Regions from separate parts of the Homo sapiens genome. Here region 2 is linked to region 1. Evidence: fine-mapped expression QTL. A gene starts in region 1. The other region holds a variant in brackets. All regions are shown on one strand. Distances are between the middles of the regions.

Region 1 (2,897 bases):
AGCTGTGCTCTCCCCAGATCATATCTGTTCCTCTTGAGCTTTCTCTTCCTCATTCGGAGGAACTCCAGGCTTCTCTAAATGGGTTCATGACCCTTGGAGGAAGGGGAAAAAGGGACACAGAGAGGAGATAAGATGGTTCACAATGAGTTTGACCAGATCCTACTGAAATACCTTAAGAGCAATGAGAAGTGTCACTGCAACTTCAACACTTCCAGAGGCCTCACCAAGGCCCTCTCCAGTTGCTCAGGATGACTACTGGTGACCAGTCCCATCCTCAGAAGTCAAAAACTGAGGAACATAAACAGAGGTGCAGACTCTGAAGGCAGTGCTGAACCCTGCAACGTTAGCAAAATGGGGGCGCGCGGACTCTCCTGGGGGCTGCGCTTAACTGGGGGAGAGGAAAACGAGGCGGTCATTAAAAACGCAGCTCCACTCCTCAGCACCAGCTGAGGGCGTCTGGCTCCCGGACACGCCCCCGAACGAGCCCTCCCGCAGGTTGTGAACACTACATTGCAAGCGGGCAGCTCAGGGAAGATCCTACCCGCTAGTTCCCCGGATCCCCTCCGGGAGCGCAAACTGACCTCGCCTAGGATGGGGTGGGCCACCCACCGGGAGCCCCCAGCCGCGGCCCGCTCACCTTGCACTTGAAGCCAGCGGCGGGCGGCAGGAGCTCCCGCAGCAGGCCCTTGGCCACCTCGCGGCTGGCCTCCTCGCTCACGAAGTGAAGGTTAAGCACCTCGTGCGCCTCGAACTTGGCGAGGCGCAGCAGTGAGCGCAGCGCGACGCGGGCCTTGGCCTGCAGCGCGGCATTGTGCTCCGCCTTGGTGAACATCATCAGCAGGTGGTAGTCCACCGGCCCGGCACCGCCGCCCTCCAAGCTCTTGGCCTTCGCGCCGGGGGCTGGCGCCACGGAGCCCCGCGCTAGCTCCAGCGCGGGCGGCGAGGGCGCGGCGGGAGCCCCGGCGCGGGCCTCCTTCAGCCTCTTGGTGGCGCTGGAGAAGGTCTCCCGGCCTGAGCCGAGGTAGTAGAAGGCGCAGACGGCCAGCGCCGCGGCCAGCAGCAGGGCGCAGTAGTGGGAGCGCACAGCGCCCAGGCGCGCCATGGCCCGAGCGCATGGGAGCCCGCCTCGGAGGAGGCCCATGCGCTACGAGACCGCGGCGCCAGCGGTGCCAGCAACGCGGGAGAGCCCTCGGGTACCCGGACGCCGGCGGCCACTTAGCCCCGGCGCCAGGCGGCGGCCATGAAAGGGGCGGGGCCGCGCCGCCTGGAGCCAATCGCGGGCGCCGGTGCGCGGAGGGGCGGGGCCGGGCGTGCCGAAACCGCTGGGTCCTAGGTTCCAAGGGTATTAGAGGAGGGGTTAGGGTGGGATCCGGCGCCCGGCGTTGGGAGGGGGGGATTCCGGACTCCAGCGTGCTGAGGGCTGGCCCGCTGTCCCGGCTGAGAAATGGCGCCCTACGCGGCGAGCCCCAGAGGATATCCAAGCTGAGTGTTGAAGGGAATGGAGGCGCCCGAACAGAGGAACTTAGGTTAGCCAAAAGCGAAGCTGGAGGCACCAAGAGGTAAAACTTTAATCTCTGCACCTTTTTTCCCTCAATTTCTTGGAGGCTTTAAGCCGTCTCGGCCTCTCCCTGCACACGAGCTGCAGCTAGGCAATTTAAACCGGCAGCTCCTCCCTTTTCCCCCGCCCTGGGAGGAAATGGCCCGGGCCGCACGTCGCGCCGGAGGCCGAGCGGAGGGAGGCTGGAGGATGTGGCCAGCAGGGGGCCCCCGCCGCCCGCACGAACCTGCGAGGCTGCTCCCCGAGCCCCAGCACCGCAAAGCCCTGGAGGGCGACATTCATCCACTTTTGTTTTATAAACAGACTTTTAACACTTTATCAAGAGCCTCCTTGAGGGTACCAGGGAGTTTTGCACGCCGAGGTCACGTGCCCAAAGTCACACAGCTAGCCAGTAGCAATTTTGACCCTAGGCAGTTGCACACTGCTAACTAGATAAAAACGTACTAACTTCAGTCTTCTAAGAATTGAGGCTATACCAGTAGTTTTTAAGTAAACACGTGCAAGTGCTGTGCATGCTGTCTAAATAGACAAAGAACTTGAGTAAGTACAGTAACCCTTCAGTTCTTTGGCCAAGTTCTCTGATTTCTGACCAGAGATTAGGTAAACGGTTTTTCCTGTTATTTCCACATTGTAAGGTTGCATGGATTATCCAACCTCTCTGCTTCAGACCTTGGCTTACATGTCACTACCTACACAAATGATCTCTAAATACCTCCTATCCAGTGTCTGGGCTAAGTGCCATCCTCAATAATTCTGTGAGGGCCACCTAAATATATGTACTACCCTAGTCTCATCTTTCTTCATTGCAAGAACACGTGACTCCAAGAGAACAGAATATACATTTGTTTTTTATTAACCACAATATACCCAGTACCTAACACGGTGCCTACCACATTGGATGAGTCTCAAAAATATACTCAACCATTGAAACAGCATTTTTATTTCTAGAAAATCTTCCTAATAATTTAAGAATGTTCAAAATATTTAACCATAAGAATAAAGCAAGGCCAAGCATGGTGGCTTAGGCCGGGAATGGTGGCTCACGCCTGTAATCCTAGCACTTTGGGAGGCCGAGGAGGGCAGATCACCTTAGGCCAGGAGTTCGAGACCAGCCTGCCCAACATGGCGAAACCCCGTCTCTACTAAAAATACAAAAAATTAGCCAGACATGGTGGCGGGCGCCTGTAATCCCAGCTACTCAGGAGGCTGAGGCAGAAGAATCGCTTGAACCTGGGAGGTGGAGGTTGCAGTGAGCCGAGATCATAACACTGCACTCCAGCCTGGGCGACAAGAGCAAAACTCTGTCTCAAAAAAAAAAAAAAAGTAGGCAGTGTGGTGG
Region 2 (2,897 bases), 180 kb before region 1:
TGGCCAGGCCCCTCCCCGATACCTCCCACCTGTACCACAAGGAGGGAGAGTGGCCTCCTAGGCCTTCCCAGCTCCAGGTCGCCTTGGTGGCAGCACTGTGGTCACCTCCTCCTGCCTCGGTGCAGCTTCTCTAAACTCAGGGCAGGCTGCGGGGAGCAGTAAGGGGGCTGGGAGGCACTGCCCGTGTGGCCCGTTGACACGCCACCGTCTCTCCAGGTGGCCTGCAGCAAACCCGCCTTTCCTGCTCCTCTGGACACAGCCGGCCTTGCCCTTGCCAGGCTGCGTGTGGCCCTGGAGCTCCTCTTCCGCCCTCTTCCCGTTTGTACCCACTCTCCAGGGAGACATTTTTCCCCTTTAAACTGGAAATGTGCTCCCTGGCTCCTCCTCAGATCCCTTGTGCTTGAGTTGCTTCTCCAGGCCTTCCAGATAAATCTCTTGAAAATCTGCTGTGCTTGGGGTGCTCCCTGTGAAAGCAGAAAAGCATCTGAGCTACCCTCCCTGTCTCTCCCCACTGCGCGCTCTATTCAGGTATCAACACAGGTATGCCTGGAGCTGGTAGAGCACAGAGACAAGGCAGTCAGGCTCCCTGCACGCAGGGCCTGCAACTTCTCAGCTCTCTCCGGATAGGGCACTGGGGCCTGGGCTTACCCAGAACAGCCAACTGGAATTTGAATGAACATAAAGAGTGGAATTTTTAACAGCCAGATCAAAGCGGGCATTAAAATTAGATGCTACTGGAGGAGCCAAGATGGCCGAATAGGAACAGCTCTGGTGTACAGCTCCCAGCGTGAGCGACGCAGAAGACGGTGATTTCTGCATTTCCATCTGAGGTACCGGGTTCATCTCACTAGGGAGTGCCAGACAGTGGGCGCAGGTCAGTGGGTGCGCGCACCGTGCGCGAGCCGAAGCAGGGCGAGGCAAAGCCTCACTTGGGAAGCGCAAGGGGTCAGGGAGTTCCCTTTCAAAGGGAGTCAAAGAAAGGGGTGACAGACGCACCTGGAAAATCGGGTCACTCCCACCTGAATACTGCGCTTTTCCAACGGGCTTAAAAAACGGCGCACCACGAGATTACATCCCGCACCTGGCTCGGAGGGTCCTACCCCACGGAGTCTCGCTGATTGCCAGCACAGCGGTCTGAGATCAAACTGCAAGGTGGCAGCGAGGCTGGGGGAGGGGCGCCCGCCATTGCCCAGGCTTGATTAGGTAAACAAAGCAGCCGGGAAGCTCGAACTGGGTGGAGCCCACCACAGCTCAAGGAGGCCTGCCTGCCTCTGTAGGCTCCACCTCTGGGGGC[A/G]GGGCACAGACAAACAAAAAGACAGCAGTAACCTCTGCAGACTTAAAGGTCCCTGTCTGACAGCTTTGAAGAGAGCAGTGGTTCTCCCAGCACGCAGCTGGAGATCTGAGAACGGGCAGACTGCCTCCTCAAGTGGGTCCCTGACCCCTGACCCCCGAGCAGCCTAACTGGGAGGCACCCCCCAGCGGGGCACCTCACAGGGCCGGGTACTCCAACAGACCTGCAGCTGAGGGTCCTGTCTGTTAGAAGGAAAACTAACAAACAGAAAGGACATCCACACCAAAAACCCATCTGTACATCACCATCATCAAAGACCAAAAGTAGATAAAACCACAAAGATGGGGAAAAAACAGAACAGAAAAACTGGAAACTCTAAAAAGCAGAGCACCTCTCCTCCTCCAAAGGAACGCAGTTCCTCACCAGCAACAGAACAAAGCTGGATGGAGAATGACTTTGACGAGCTGAGAGAAGAAGGCTTCAGACGATCAAATTACTCTGAGCTACGGGAGGACATTCAAACCAAAGGCAAAGAAGTTGAAAACTTTGAAAAAAATTTAGAAGAATATATAACTAGAATAACCAATACAGAGAAGTGCTTAAAGGAGCTGATGGAGCTGAAAACCAAGGCTCGAGAACTACGTGAAGAATGCAGAAGCCTCAGGAGCCGATGCAATCAACTGGAAGAAAGGGTATCAGCAATGGAAGATGAAATGAATGAAATGAAGCAAGAAGGGAAGTTTAGAGAAAAAACAATAAAAAGAAATGAGCAAAGCCTCCAGGAAATATGGGACTATGTGAAAAGACCAAATCTACGTCTGATTGGTGTACCTGAAAGTGATGGGGAGAATGGAACCAAGTTGGAAAACACTCTGCAGGATATTATCCAGGAGAACTTCCCCAATCTAGCAAGGCAGGCCAACGTTCAGATTCAGGAAATACAGAGAACGCCACAAAGATACTCCTCGAGAAGAGCAACTCCAAGACACATAATTGTCAGATTTACCAAAGTTGAAATGAAGGAAAAAATGTTAAGGGCAGCCAGAGAGAAAGGTCGGGTTACCCACAAAGGGAAGCCCATCAGACTAACAGTGGATCTCTCGGCAGAAACCCTACAAGCCAGAAGAGAGTGGGGGCCAATATTCAACATTCTTAAAGAAAAGGATTTTCAACGCAGAATTTCATATCCAGCCAAACTAAGCTTCATAAGTGAAGGAGAAATAAAATACTTTACAGACAAACAAATGCTGAGAGATTTTGTCACCACCAGGCCTGCCCTAAAAGAGCTCCTGAAGGAAGCGCTAAACATGGAAGGGAACAACCGGTACCAGCCGCTGCAAAATCATGCCAAAATGTAAAGACCATCGAGACTAGGAAGAAACTGCATCAACTAACGAGCACAATAACCAGCTAGCATCATAATGACAGGATCAAATTCACACATAACAATATTAACTTTAAATGTAAATGGACTAAATGCTCCAATTAAAAGACACAGACTGGCAAATTGGATAAAGAGTCAAGACCCATCAGTGTGCTGTATTCAGGAAACCCATCTCACATGCAGAGACACACATAGGCTCAAAATAAAAGGATGGAGGAAGAT

The links. PIP is the estimated chance that this variant, and not a neighbour inherited with it, causes the effect.
Region 2: its variant is fine-mapped to the expression of XXYLT1 in whole blood (INTERVAL, PIP above 0.99).

The regions. Positions count from the first base shown.
Region 1 is chr3:195,269,918-195,272,814 of GRCh38, forward strand. It overlaps XXYLT1 (xyloside xylosyltransferase 1), which reads right to left and starts at 1,242. Exons shown (of 4, transcript NM_152531.5): 1 at 638-1,242. The coding sequence starts at 1,141. RefSeq lists an enhancer at 481-1,272 and silencers at 523-702, 863-1,392, 1,643-1,872.
Region 2 is chr3:195,086,937-195,089,833 of GRCh38, forward strand. The region is part of intron 3 of XXYLT1 (xyloside xylosyltransferase 1); the gene reads right to left. Among named protein-coding and RNA genes, the nearest start is that of XXYLT1-AS1, 6.2 kb to the right of the region's middle. The variant A/G (reference allele first, on the strand shown) is at 1,295.